Linked DNA regions of Homo sapiens. The gene in region 2 interacts genetically with the main gene of each other region. Each region holds a gene or a part of one and is shown on either strand. Other genes may lie near its edges.

Evidence for each region.
Region 1: changes in TMEM165 (region 2) and ATP2C1 are lethal when combined (synthetic lethality), as found in Homo sapiens cells (one study listed by BioGRID).

Annotation. Positions count from the first base shown.
Region 1 is NC_000003.12:130,890,194-130,897,585, reverse strand, and holds the start of ATP2C1 (calcium-transporting ATPase type 2C member 1), read right to left. Parts: upstream 3,503-7,392; 5' UTR 3,249-3,502; intron 3,037-3,248; exon of another isoform or gene 2,997-3,036; 5' UTR 2,817-2,996; coding exon 2,811-2,816; intron 1-2,810. UniProt on the Homo sapiens protein: ATP-driven pump that supplies the Golgi apparatus with Ca(2+) and Mn(2+) ions, both essential cofactors for processing and trafficking of newly synthesized proteins in the secretory pathway.
Region 2 is NC_000004.12:55,412,939-55,420,942, forward strand, and holds part of TMEM165 (putative divalent cation/proton antiporter TMEM165 precursor), read left to right. Parts: intron 1-4,133; coding exon 4,134-4,309; intron 4,310-4,864; coding exon 4,865-5,047; intron 5,048-8,004. UniProt on the Homo sapiens protein: Putative divalent cation:proton antiporter that exchanges calcium or manganese ions for protons across the Golgi membrane.

The DNA.
Region 1 (7,392 bases), on a different chromosome or scaffold from region 2:
GGAAACACTATCAATTCTACACTGTTCACACCCACAAATGTAACTACCTGCATACCTACTGGAGGATACTCTTACTAGGGAACAGCAGCATCACTCAATTCATCCAAGTTAACTGTATGTCAAACATTGCTCTGGCGGCTTCATTTATTACTCACATCAACTTTGCAAGAGGGCATTATCTCATTTACAGATGAGATAACTTAGAGGCTGAGAAAGCTTAGAAGCCTAGTAACTTGTCAGATTTTTCAGGAGAGGAAAACATTACTTGTCGGGCTTCAAATCCAAACCTGTCTCTTTCTGTACTGGACCCTGGCTTCTTGGTAGAGCCCTAACTTTTTCTGTAGGCTTAAAAGCACTAATGCCATAGAAAATTCCTTACCTAACTCCACTTATCCCTCAACTAACAATGACAACTTCATTTTGAGCATTTGGCTACTACTGTTCCCCCTTCCAACATTTAACTGTCATGACAATATTAATGCCAGGTGGCCTATTAGTATGTATCAAACATTCAGCTAGGCAATTTATAATTAACATTTACCGAGCACTTACTATGTGCCAGATACTGTTTGAATGTTTACAACAACCTCATAAGGTAGGTTCTATCATTATCTTTATTTTATGAAGAAACGGAAGCACAGAAAACTTTAATATGCACAAAGCCAAATGGTAAGCGACGAATCCAGCATTCAAATCAGTCTGCATGGTTCCACCACAACTCAAGCTCTTAAACGTTATCATTCCTACCTCACAAGAGAATTTATACAGGGTTTCTCATTTAATCCTCTCAATTCTGTGAGTTAAAGATTATCAATCCCAATTTATAGATGAAGAAATACAGGCTCAGAAAGGTGACGTAATTTACTTAAAATCACACAGCTTTAAGTGGTTCAAGACAAGTTAGTCAAGACTTGAATCCATTTTTGTTTCACACCTCCAAATTGTTAATACTACACTATATCAAAGAAGGATGAAAACTACAAAAAGGCAAGTGAACAATAAAAAGGCACAGGTATCAATCTATGTAGTTTAATATGGTCAGTCACTTTTGAAAATTTCTAGGCTATATACAGGCTCTTCTTCAAACTGTTTATATATAAAAAAAAATGTGACGATAGGGAGAAACTGACAAAAATGGTCTCTTGATGGTCAAGAATAACGGGACAGAAAACCCCACACGTTTTTAAGAACTGTATAATCTTTTACTATGAAACCACAAAATTCATATTTGGCCACAAAATACAGAGACAGACACAAGTAGGCACCATTCTCCTATCTCACAACCACCCCCTCCCACCTCAGTAGATAATGAGAATCGGCTTTATTACTCATGCTCTTCCTCCTGAGAGATCAAGAAACAAAAGCAACATGAAAGAATCCACCTACTTTAGGCTACCCTCTTAAATCTGGTACCATTCTGAAAACAAGCTCATAAACATACATTAAATGTTAGAAGTTATTTAAGATGTTTCTACCAAGAAACAAGTATATGAATGCATTTAACATTCTTTGTCTCATGTGCAGAATGGATTTGCCTTTCTTAAATCAATAAACTTAAAAGAGAGGAAAAAGGCTCAGAAAAGTGACTTTCCTTATCACCAAAAACATCACTGCTTTCAAATGTTTCTCAAGACCCAATTAGACAGTATAACTCCTCTGCAGTTATACACTTTAGTATTTCAGAAAATGTCTTCCGCCAATTATCCATCCAGAGTAAAATTTGTCAATATAATCATGCCTCTCATCATATTCCCTACATAGCCCAGAGGTCTCAGAGAGCAAAACACATTACTGCATCTATAAGAAACACCCATTTCAAAATTACTAGTCCTAGTCAGACAATCAAGCTTACATTCTCAACAATGGAAAAACAAATTAGAAGCAGCCAGCAAGACTGCAGCTCCTTTATACCAGACACATATTTTTTAAAACAAATTATACCAGAGGAAAAAACTGTCATTTGTTAAGTATCTTTTATAGTATTTTGCAGCCCGGTTAAAGGCAGAAGAAAAAAAAATGATCACGCACAAGTCAGAAGTCAGTCCAAAGAATAAGTGTTGTTTCAGGAGGGGGAAAAAAAATCACTTATTCACAGTTGTTCAACAATTTTAAAAATAATCAGTGCTGTGTAGGAAAAGCATTAAATATTTTAACGAGGCCAAAGGGATCATGTAACATGTGAATGACGATCTAATGTGTCCAAAGTGTACAGTGAACAAACAGGTTCCGCTGTCAGCCTCCTAAATGATGTTTTGAAATAGGGTGGAACTTTAAGAAAAGCACTCATCTCATAACATTTCATTAAATTCACTGGGTTTTTTTTGTGAATTGAAAAATAATGAGTTTTTTCCCCAATGCTAGACATAATAAAACATGGCTTGCTTTCTTATAAATGAATCCTGCCACACACCACATCGAGGCTTGAAACGCCAATATACAGAGATGCAGCCCCATCCCCTTGTCCCCCATTTCCACTTCCCCTCGAGTAATTCCTTTCAAATAGCTATTTAAACATGCACAGACGCTATCTGAAATGAAAACTTCCCTCTCATTCCCTAAGCTGAAGAGAGCAGGAATTCCTCAAGAAAGCTGAATCAAGCTCAGTCACCCACAGAACCTCAATCTCTCAAATGCCCCATGTTACCAAAATAAAAGCTGGATACCCTAAGTAAGCAAATCCTTGGACACTTCACATACACAGTAAATAAATAAGCTCACGAAAATAAAAAGGTGGAAAAACAAAGACAACTTAAAAGCAAACCACCACACCCTCAACTCCGCGTTGCAACCGGTCGGCCAGGGGCCTTTACCTTCATTTTCCATCGAAACTGCACTCGGGTTGATGGCTACAAAGTCTTTAGTGTCAGCCACGGCCACACTGGGAATAGAGAGGAGAGGAGGAGGACAAGGAAGAGAAGCCCCCGGAATCCCAGGCTGTCACCCCCGCTCCCGGCCACGCGTCCCACGGCTGCTCCCACCACCCCTAGCAGCAGCATCTGCAAGAGAAACCAGGAGAAGCGGCGCTGACGAGAGGCTGAGGAAGGAGTTCCCCGCCCAGCCACTATCTCGGGAGCCCCCCTCCCCAAGATCCCGCACCCGCCCCGTCGTGTGCCCGCAACGTCCCCAGCTCACGCCAGCGGGGCGGCGCCCTAGAGATGCCCCCCCATCCAGGGGATACCCGAACCTCCCCTTCCTTCAGAACCTGGAAGTTTCTAGAAATGGGGGCAGGAGGTAATACTGGTACCCACCCAAAGCCCCGGACAGCCCTCCTCCAGGCTGCGGGGTCTCAGCCGCGGGGCTCGCGGGGGCGCCCCGCGCGCCTCGGGAGAAGAGGAGCTGCTCGCGGGGCAGCGGTGCGAGGCGGGAGCCTGCTCCCGGCGTGAGAAGAAGCGAGCGGGAGGGAGGAAGGGAGGGAGAGAGGGCGGGCGGGGAGGGGAGAGAAGAGGAGGTGAGGGGACCCGTCACGGTCCGCCGGGCCGGCTCCGCGAGGCCGTGCTGGTCTGCTCCCGCCTCCGACTCCTGCGCTCCGCCCCTCCCCGCCGCCGGCCGCCCAGTCGCGCCCCGCACTCCTGGGCCAGCCGCGAACCCAGCTTTGTCACTATTACTTCCGCTGAGAGAGGTGCGCGCAGGCGCATTCGTGTTCACGGGCTGGGAAGGCGGAAGTGAAGTGAAGGCCGAGACTTCGGCCCGGAATGGACAATGTTTGGGTTTGGATCCGTCCGGTAGGAGGTCGCTCGGGGTTGGTGGCCCGCCTTGTTCTTGCTGGCGCCTCCCTTACCCCAGGGACGGTGTCCGCCCGTTTATATGCACCCCCTGAACGCGAGGGTCGGAGATTCGCCCACGCCCCGTGTCGGCCACGCATTCCCGTGGGGCGGCCGCGGGGTCGGCCCAAGCTGAGAGTCATGGCCGCTGTCCCCGAGGCGTTTAAGCGCTCTCTACAAAGTCTGTAGGGGAAGCTGCTCCCGTCGGGGTGGCAGTCACAATCTCAGCAGGCAACGTTGAGGCCCACGGAAGGAAGGGGCGAGGTGTCCATGCTCCTGCCAGGGACTGGAGCACCGTGAGCAGCCTCCCGAGTCTCGCACTCTCACTTGCAAAACCCTGCACTGACTGCTTGGTTCTTGGGGGAGCCGGTAATCGCGGGGCGACTTCCCAAAATTCTTTAAGGGGTGTGCTTAGTTACCATGTGTAATGAGAGAGCAAGGTTCAGCCTCAGAGAGCTCCAGGGAGAGCTAATCTTTTTCATTCGTTTGTGGTATATGGAACTGGGGAGAGGCTGGAACAGCAATTAGAAACCAGTCGTACAGCTGTCGAAGCCAATGAACGAGCACTTCTTTTAGCAGCTGTACCTTTGTCCAGTGTCAATGCCTTTTCACACGTAAACATTTCACTTGCTCGGCATCTTACCCAGACCCCTAATAAGTGCTTTTTAATGAACGATTGGTTTTAATAAACCGTGGTGAGCCAGACATATAATGTTGAACAGAAGTCCTCTCACACCCATAACCACTAGAGGGCAGGGCTTCACCTACTGAGTTGGTGATCATCCTACAGAGAACTCAAAAGAAAATTTCCGTATATGCTAGATGTGTTTTTCTCCATCAACACTTAGACACTTTACAAATTTGCTTTTTATCTCAGGTCCTGTAACATATCGCAGTGTGCTCTCTAACCACACGTTCAACATCAGAATTAACGGACGGGGTTGCCTGTGTTTCTATATTTGTTCCCAAGTAAGTGGTACTAGACTAGGATTGAAAATTCTGGACAGCTTTCTAGATTTACCTTTCTTTTAAGAAATATTGAACTTTTATTCAGCGAGGTCACTTTTAAAGATGAACCCATAAAAATCACTATCAAGTAGATTTCTAGTCTTAACGAGTTAACTATGATCCACCTCTGGCATGCATGGTCAGTGATTTTTGTCTGCACAATGACGGAGCCAAATTAACGGACGGGGTTGCCTGTGCTTCTATATTTGTTCCCAAGTAAGTGGTACTAGACTAGGATCGAAAATTCTGGACGGTTTTTAGATTTACCTTTCTTTTAAGAAATATTGAACTTTTATTCAGCGAGGTCACTTTTAAAGATGAACCCATAAAAATATCAAGTAGATTTCTAGTCTTAGGAGTTACTATTTATGATCCACCTCTGGCATGCATGGTCAGTGATTTTTGTCTACACAATGACATAGCCTGTGATTTGTACAATGATTGTGATCTCTCGTAATCAATTTGTAACAGTTATTACTGTACATATTCGACCTTGAAACAGCATTATATTAAAAACAAAAGCACCTAAGGTAGGAAATTACACAATATAAATACTTTGATATTAACATATGCATTTACAAAATAGAGGGTAACTGTACAGAATTTGGTATTGGGTCACTTTAGCTGAAACATTTTTCTAAAGCAACTTTTCAGAACTATCTGTTGTATTAATATACTGCAATACTCTAGCATTAACACTGAATCTATAACTCCTCCAAAAGATTTATAGCTCCATGGTTTATTCCTAAAATGACTTAAACTGAAATTTTACTTTTGGTCCCCTAAATTATGAAAATCATTGTTCCTATTACTAAGCCAAAAAAGAAACTGGTAAGATCAAGATCAACTTTACCAAGAAGAATTGACCAATTAGTCATTTTATATAAAAAACTTAAGCATCTGGAAATTTTGGTGTCTGAGGGGGTTCTGGAACCGATCCCCTGTGGACAATGAGGGATGACTATATACATATATATGTCATACACACACATATGTATATGTATAGACAAACATATACACATATATATGTATATTCATACACCCACATATACATACACACTAGCCTTCTTTCAAAAGATTTTTGTAAGAATCTCATAAAGTAAGTGAACACAGGTTGCAAATTATAAGCACTATAGAAGTATAAGATTATTATAGAGAGAATCAAGGAAATCCCTGGAGTGTTAGCTAGCTACAATGGGATTGATGGCAATGAAACATATTATTTCCAAGTTTCAGCTTATTGCTTCCATAGAAATCAAAGCTCTAAAAATTCTTTCTACTCTCCTTTTGTCCTGAATATTTAACCTACAAAATTAAATGCATCTGATGCAAAAAGTGGTCACGTGCAAGAAAGGGAAATTTGTCAGGCTTTTCCGCTTGGGGGAAATATTACAAATGGGAAAGATTGAAGAAGAATGGTCATGACATTCTAATTTTCTTTATACTGTGCTTTATTCCACAAAGGGTGTGCGGTATCTTGTTTTTAATATCAAATTTGATAGCTGCATTTTTATAAACCTGGATGGTACAAGAATATGTGGTTCTTTAGGGATTTAAAAATTAAAACTTGGAAAAAATTATTTTAAAATCTTTCCTCAATTAATTAATGTCTTCTTTTAAAGGCTGTTTTAATGTTGTTTAAAGTACCAGAGGTTAATAGTTAAGAAATTTCACCTAGCTGCTAGAAAAGAAATTGTAATTTTATTTTAAGTTGAACATTTTATTTATTTACTTACTAACTTAAGAGACAGAGTCTCTGTCGCTGAGGCTGGAGTGCAATGATGCCATCATAGCACACTGCAGTCTTGAACTCCTAGGCTCAAGAGATCCTCTTGCCTCGGCCTACCAATGTGCTTGGGATTAGAGGCATGAACCACCATGCCTGGCAAAGTTGGACACGTTAAAAACATATAAAGATGCATCACTTTATTTTTATAAGCTAACCTACTCCAACAGAACAACAGAAGTATTTTTCTTCTTATAAGATAAAGGACATGCTAAATGTCAAGTTTAGAAAACTATAGTTTTATTGCCAAGAGTGTTGTACGAAATCAGTTCCTAACAAACATCTACCAGAATTGCTATAAATCTGCCTAGTTCCATGTTTTGGCAGTGCTGGAAGATTAAAAGTTGGAAGCAAGAATAAAAATTGAAGGACTCATATGAGCTACTTGTGTTTGGTTGGTTTTAATAGCACCCAGATCCAGATCCCCAAGTACTCTACAAATATTTTATCACTCACAAAATTCCATAGCCTCTTTCACACTTGCTAGCATTTTAAACATGAAATATTTGATGAAACTGAGATGAAATGAGAGAACTTATACTCTTAATTTTTATTGTTAAAGAAGTTTATTTCAAGTATGACATAGTCTCTCCATTCATTGGCTCAGATTCTGAGCCAGTGGTAATATTTGGGATCTTATATACTACCAGTCTTCTGGATTAGACATGAGTGTCGATGGGATGCATGTGAAAATAAGAAAGAGGTAAGAGCAAAGTGAGTGTGAGTCCCATGACCCAAGAGTACCATGACCAATGAACTTCATCATTTCCATGGAAAACAGACATACAATATTCCAAATTATATAAACTACAGGATTTGTTTTGAGATACAAAGGTA
Region 2 (8,004 bases):
CATCTCTTAATGAGATGATAGGGCTATTTTTTATTTATTTATTTATTTATTTTTTTTTAGAGACTGAGTCTTGCTCTATCACTCAGGCTGGAGTGCAGTGGCATGATCATAGCTCACTGAGACCTGGAACTCCTGGGCTCAAGTGATCCTTCCACCTCAGCCTCCTGAGTAGCTGGGACCATAGGCTCATGCCACCATGCCCAGCTAAATTTTTTGTTTTTTGTAGAGACAGGGTCTGGTTGTGTTGCCCAGGCTGATCTTGAACTCCTGGGCTCAAGCTATCTTTCCACCTTAGCCTCCCAGTGTACTGATATTATAGGTATGTGTGCCTGCCCATCCTTTTACCTTGTATTTATTTTTTAAATTTTTATTTATTTATCTTTTTATTTATTTTGAGACAGACTCTTGCTCTGTCACCCAGGCCGGAGTGCAGTGGCATGATCCCGACTCACTTAAACCTCCATCTCCCAGGCTCAGGCGATTTTCCTGCCTCAGCCTCCCAAGTAGCTGAGACTACAGGCACATGCCATCACGCCTGGATACTTATTGTATGTTTTGGTAGAGATAGAGTTTTACCATGTTGGCCAGGCTGGTCTCAAACTCCTGACCTCAAATGATCGCCCGCCTTGGCCTCCCAAAGTGCTGCGATTACAGGCGTGAGCTACCACGCCTGGCCCCTGGCCCATCATTTTACAATTTTTAAACATTTTATAGAAATAATTTTAAGTTTACAAAGCAGCAAAAATAAAATAGTATGAAGAACACTTATATAACTTTTGCCTAGATTCACCTGTTGTTAACATTTTATCCCATTTGTTTTAGCATTTGTACTCTTATCTAAATAAAATTGTAAATGTGTATATATACACGTTGTTTACATACCTGTCTATAGTGTGTACATATACATACATTATTTATAAGCTATATAATGCACACATATAATCACAACATTTAATATATATTATGTATTGATACAGTACTTGAATCTGTCATCCATATTTTAATTTTGGATGACCTAATGTCCTTTCTTGTTTTTTGAAAGGACATAGGCTGGGCGCGGTGGCTCACGCCTGTGATCCCAGCACTTTGGGAGGCTGAGGCAGGCGGATCACGAGGTCAGGAGATCGAGGCCATCCTGGCTAACACGGTGAAACCCCGTCTCTACTAAAAAAATCCAAAAAACTAGCCAGGCTTGGTGGCGGGCATCTGTAGTCCTAGCTACTTGGGAGACTGAGGCAGGAGAATGGCGTCAACCCGGGAGGCAGAGCTTGTAGTGAGCCGAGATTGTGCCACTGCACTCCAGCCTGGGCGACAGAGTGAGACTCCGTCTCAAAAAAAAAAAAAAGGACATGAAATTTTTAAATATTTCACTTGTGTTATCAGTTTTATGTAATTTAAGTGGGTTTAACAGTCTTTATATTATTTTGCCTCAACTGTTAAATCATATGTGTTTATTTCTACATCTTCTCTTTTATAGCTTTATTTAGTTTTATAGATTTAACCACTTTTTTTTTATACTTTATGTTCTGGGATACATGTGCAGAACGTGCAGGTTTGTTACACAGGTATACATGTGCCATGGTGATTTGTTGCACTCATCAACCCGTCATCTAGGTTTTAAGCCCTGCATGCACTAGGTATTGGTCCTAATGCTCTCCCTCCCCTTGCCCCTGACCCCTCAATAATGTCCTTTATATCAGTGTTTTTCCCTTCGGTCTAGGTCAGATATTGCATTTAGTTATTTATTATCTTTTTAGTCTTTTAATCTGAAATATATCCATAGCCTTTTTTTAAAATGTTTTCTGACATCAACCTTTTTGGGAGAATTACAGTGTATCCCTCCTCCCTCCACCCCAGGAATGGGCTGTTCCCCATTTTTTGTTTGTCTGATGTTTCCTGATGGTTAGATTGAGGTAGGCATTCCTGACTAGAAAACTGCATAGGTGATACTTTGTCTCTCCAAGAATGTCTCATCTGGAAGCACATGGTGTCCATTTATTCCTCATTGGTGACATTAATTTTGGTGACCCAGTCAATATTTCTTTTCTGTGTTGTCTTCCCTTGCAACTACTATCTAATCTGTAGGGATATACTTAAAGACAGTACAAATACCCTCTTCCTCATCAAAATTTCTCCAAAGATTTTGCATCAATTGATGATTCTTGCATAATTAGATCTTTCATTGATGCTTGCAAAATGATGCTTTTAATTCTAATACTTCTTGCATATTCACCAGTGAGCCTTGGTATTCTACTGCCAGCAAGAGCTCTCCTTCCTTTCCCATTTGTTTGTCTTTTTACTAGCAGTACAAACTTATGGATTCCTTTTTTCAATGGTTTATAATTAATTATTTAACTATTTTGCTGCTTAAATTATCCGATGTTAGGCCAGTGAGAGCCTCTCCAAACTGTGTCCTGTGTCTTTGTGGCATGCTCCCATTTGATTTTGCTCCTCACTTTCTAGTACAACAAGATATTACAGGTTCATCATGCACCTGCTCTGCCCAGTCCTGGAACTGGCCATTTCTCGGCGGAGCTTTGAGGAGCTTTTTAGGGGAGAATGGTATTAGAACCCAAGATCTAGGTGCAAGGTTACTGAGCTCCTTGTTACTGAGATGTCTTTGCCTCTTGTCTTTTTCAGTGGACAGAGCTAGAAAATATATGCTTGTATCCTGTGTGTACACATACATATATACAAATATACATCCATACATATATACACACACAATAATTTAAATACAGATGTGCACACAAACATAGGTTTGCTGCATTTCTAACCATGATTTTAAGATCTTTTCAGTTTTGTAATGTAGGGAATTATTTACATACAGGTTATACATTTACAGGCAGATTTGTAAGTGTTGCACCCGTTTTATAAAAAGAGCTGGTGAATTAAAGAGTAATTGTATTTTTCTTTCTTTCTTTTTTTTTTTCTGAGATGGGATCTCACTCTGTTGCCCAAGCTGGGATGCAGTGGCATGATCGCAGCTCACTGCAGCTTTGACCTCCTGGGCTCAAGTGATCCTCCTATCTCAGCCCCTCAAGTAGGCTGGGACCAAGGCGTGTGTCACCCCGTCAGGCTAATTTTTGTATTTTTTTTGTAGAGACAGGATTTCGCCATGTTGACCAGTGGTCTCAAGCTCCTGGGCTCAAGTAATCCGCCCGACTCGGTCTCCCAAAGTGCTGGGATTACAGGCATGAGCCACCGTGCCTGGCCAGAGTAATTGTATTTATTATATGTATGGTCGTGTCCTCTGTTCCTTACATAGTTGTTTTTGTTTGTTTATGAGACAGGGTGTCACTATGTTTCCCAGGCTGGTTTTGAACTTCTAGGCTCAAGCAATCCTTCCACCGTGGCCTCCCAGAGTGCTGGGATTATGCCACTTTGCCCAGCCAAATTTTTAAGTTTTAATTACTGAATGAGTATTACTGATATACTTGTGTTTCACCATTAGGATTTGAGTTCTTGATATAGTTCCAAGCATCATTTTTTATATAACTTACACAGATGTCTTTCCTTATCAGTGGGAAAGAGTGGAACTGAATGTTTGAGCCTGTTGTAACATTATTTTAATATAATAAGAAATTTTTAGATTTTTTTCATAAAACGTACTTATTTTAAATAGTTACAAGGGAGCAGAGTTTAAATCTTGCTATGTGAGACTTTTGTCATGATTCTTCACTAGAAGTTTGTGATTTAAAGATTTGTGATGAAGAAATTCCACTATGCAAGTGGCATGGCTTCCCAGTTATAAAATCTCAGCTCTTGAGAGGGCCTCAGAGCTAACTTCTACCCCAGGTACTGTGCCTTGCACAACATAAGGCAAGCCAGCCTCTGACTGAACATGCCTGGAAAGGAGTTCAATATCTTACTTAACATCTCTCAGGAAGATGTGCCATCTTCAACTGGACCATTGGCTTCTGAGTAAGCTGTGTTAGGCCTGGGCTAGACCTAATGGTTTATTATTGGTGGAGAGAAAGATCTGGAAATACTTGAGGTTATTACATACTAGATTAGCTTCTAATGTGAACCATTTTTCTTTTAACAGTGATAAATTATTATTTCCGAAGTTAACTGTTCCCTTGGTCGTGATACACACTCGATTAACAAACATACTGTTGTATTTTTTCCAGTTTTGTTTGGCTATGCCACCACAGTCATCCCCAGGGTCTATACATACTATGTTTCAACTGTATTATTTGCCATTTTTGGCATTAGAATGCTTCGGGAAGGCTTAAAGATGAGCCCTGATGAGGGTCAAGAGGAACTGGAAGAAGTTCAAGCTGAATTAAAGAAGAAAGATGAAGAAGTAAGCCATGGCACTGTTGATCTGGACCAAAAAGGCACTCAACTAGGAATAAACACTCTACAGAGGTTTCTCAGTGGCCCCATCTGTGTGATATGCGGGGCTACACAAAAATAGCTTCTTTTGCTTTGTTCTGTTCTTATACCTGTCTGTGATCTGACTTGGGGTTGGTGTGAATGTAGTAGAGAAAGGAAGCTGACAGATGAATACTGAACACAGGTAATCAGTTTCCTTAATTAGGTTGATTATAAGCTCCTGAAAAGCAGGAACTGTATTTTATAATTTTACCTGTTTCTCCCGTGGTGTCTAGGATAGTAAGTGAGCAGAGCAGTAAATACTGTTTGGTTTGTTCAGCTGAGGAGAAACGGAAGAATTGAGACTATAGCATTTGTTGCTGTGTGAGACCAGTGGTTCAGAGGGGAGGTTTGGGGGTCACATAAATGTAGTTTTTTTGGAGCATATTTCATAGAATTTAAACACTTAGAAAAGTCAAGTGATTTGTGTGCTATTTTGATTTGCTTCCTGTGCTTACTTTCATTTGTTTATTATTTATTTTAGTTTCAACGAACCAAACTTTTAAATGGACCGGGAGATGTTGAAACGGGTACAAGCATAACAGTACCTCAGAAAAAGTGGTTGCATTTTATTTCACCCATTTTTGTTCAAGCTCTTACATTAACATTCTTAGCAGAATGGGGTGATCGCTCTCAACTAACTACAATTGTATTGGCAGCTAGAGAGGTGAGTGATATTTGAGAGGAGACTGTTTAAAATGAAACGTAATTATTATTACTTTGTTCCAGAAAACACTGGACACACTGAAGTGGGCCACAGCATTCCTTCATATGCAAGACTGTTTTACATCTGATAATTCAGCTGCTCTCTAAAATTGGCCTTCTCCCAGTTCCTGCTACCTGCAGGTGAAATTCTTGTAACCAAGCTCAGTTGGGCTCTTTTTACTCATCCTTTTCCCTTTGGTTTTGCCAAAATGATGCCGTGGTACTTGTCATCTTAGCTTGGTTTTCTTATCATAGAACTTTCTTTTTTATAGTTGTTGAGAATATAAATCAGTATAATATTATTGAAGGCCATTTTGGTGTTTAATACCTAAAGCCTTAAAAATGTGTAGCTAGCCGGGCTTGGTGGTATGCACCTGTAGTCCCAGCTACTCAGGAGGGTTGAGGTGGGAGGATTGCTTGAGCCTGGGAGGTTGAGGCTCCAGTGAGCTGTGTTCGCGCCACTGCACTCCAGCCTTGGTGACAGGGAGACCCAGTCTGAAAAAAAAAAAAAAGTGTATAGCTTTTCGTTCATGTGTTACACTAAAGAAATTGACTGTTGCACAGACTACTTATAATTATTGTAACTTAGTAAAAATTTAGAAACAGCCTAATAATCCAGCAGAAAATTGGTTCAGCTGTTTACAAATCTCTGTGTAGCTCTTAGAATATTCACTCTTCAACATCATTTCAGTGACATGGAAAAATTTTAAAAGGAGGTTTACTTTTAAAATATAAAAAGAAGGCCGGGTGCCGTCCCTCACGCCTGTAATCCCAGCACTTTAGGAGGCCAAGGTGGGCGGATCACCTGAGGTCAGGAGTTTGAGACCAGCCTGACCAGCATGGAGAAACCCCTACTACTAAAAATACAAAAATTAGCCGGGCAAGGTGGCTCATGCCTGTAATCTTAGCTACTCAGGAGACTGAGGCAGGAGAATTGATTGAACCGGGGAGGCAGAGGTTGCAGTGAGCCTAGATTGCACCACTGCACTCCAGCCTGGGCAGCAGAGTGAGATGCTATCTCAAAAAATTAAATAAATAATATATAAAAAGAACAAAAAAGACTTAAGGAAATAAAAACATTATTTTTATTTCAGTGCTTATCTATCGTTGCGTACTGCTATTATGGGTAATTTATTTATTTACTTTTTGGTAGGGGTGGGGTCTCACCATGTTGTCCAGCCAGTTTTGAACCCCTGGCCTGAAACTTCCTGCCTCAGCCTCGCAAATAATCCTTCTGGGATTATAGGCGAGAGTCACTGCTCTGGCCTAGGTGACTTGTTTGTTTCTGTGTAGGAACTTTTTGTTCAAAAAGTCTTAGCCCAAGAATCCTAAGTTCTGGAGTGGGAAGCTAGAGACCTCAGCTCATCTTGTAGCTTTTACTCTTCAGATGAAGAACCTGACCCCCAGAGAGATCGGGTGACTTGTGTGAGGGAGTAAGCTGGCTGGCTGTGGCCTTCTTCACAGTTGTTCAATGCCACTTATTTAAAACATGCCCATTGGTTTTTTATTTTTTAATTTTTCTTTTGATGGGAATAGCAAGGTTTTATATGAGGCGCCTGTCATTGTTCACACAGATTTATTAAGATTTCATGTGGAGACGGTTGTGGAATGGAATACTGCTGCCACTTTTCAACCTCTTTTTCATCTTAACTGATACTATTTCTTATCTGTGTTTATATCAGATTCTCTTTTTATAAGAGTAAAATTGTTTCTAATTCCTTGGAACTATCATAAAAGAACAAGTTCTTTAATTATAGGCTGTGGTTTAAAATACAAGACAGTTGAAGGCCAGGACTAAGATAGATGGGAAAGGCTATTTTGTCAGGGAAGCCTCAAAAATGCTGTATTTTGGGGAAAAAAAATGGAACTCTGATTTTCATTTGATTCTCATAAAACAAACTTTCTTTAAAAATATCACTTTAATTAGCTGGGCGTGGTAGCGGGTGCCTGTAATCCTAGCTGCTAGAGAGGCTGAGGCAGGAGAATCACTTGAAACCGGGAGGCAGAGGTTGCAGTGAGCCGAGATGGTGCCACTGCTCTCCAGCCTAGGTGACAGAGTGAGACACTATCTTAAGAAAAAAAAATATATATATATATACATATATATTTATTTATTTATTTATTTTATTTATTTATTTAATGGCTGTACCCTATATTCTTCTTGATTTCTAGCCTTTTATTGGCTCTCAGATTGCCAGAGTTGGGACTCAATAGTAAGTAACCATTTTGTTGAGGTGGTAGTGATTCTACCAGGGTGAGTTATCATGACAGCAGAATCACTGCGTTTTTCTCTCTACTCTGTGGCATAGACTCTATGCCATAGAGTGACGTGTGAAAGGCTTGAGGCTCCCTACCTACGAGACACCCTGGTCCATTCTAGCAGTATGGCACGTGCTGACTGGGTTTTGAGTCTCTTGCTGTAAAATCACATTACTGCACTTCCCTGCATTTTCTCATCCAAAAATGGGGATTACCTGCTTTGTGGATCGGTTTGCAGATGAAATAACACACGCAGGGTATCTAGCATGGTCCCCCACATGGCACATTCAGTGTTAGCCACACTTCCATACTAACTGCCCTGCGGGGATATTTAATGAGCTCTTAAATGGCAGAAATGTTGTGTCTTTTCCTGTTCCCTTAGTATTCCTATTTTTGTTGGTAATTTTTCTTATGAACCATGCAGTTGTCTAGTTCAGGCCATTTTAGTATGCAGTTTTATCTTTGCTTCCAACATGATTTAATGTTCCCAAATTGGATTTCACATAATCCTAGTGTCCTTTGAGACTTGAATTGGTTCTAGGCCAAAAAAGGGTGAGGGGGAAGGAAGAAATTCAGAGTCAAATTTGGCAAATAATATATCCCTGTCGTTTTGTTTTTTCTTTTTAAGACTTGGGCCAGGTGTGGTGGCTCACGCGTTTA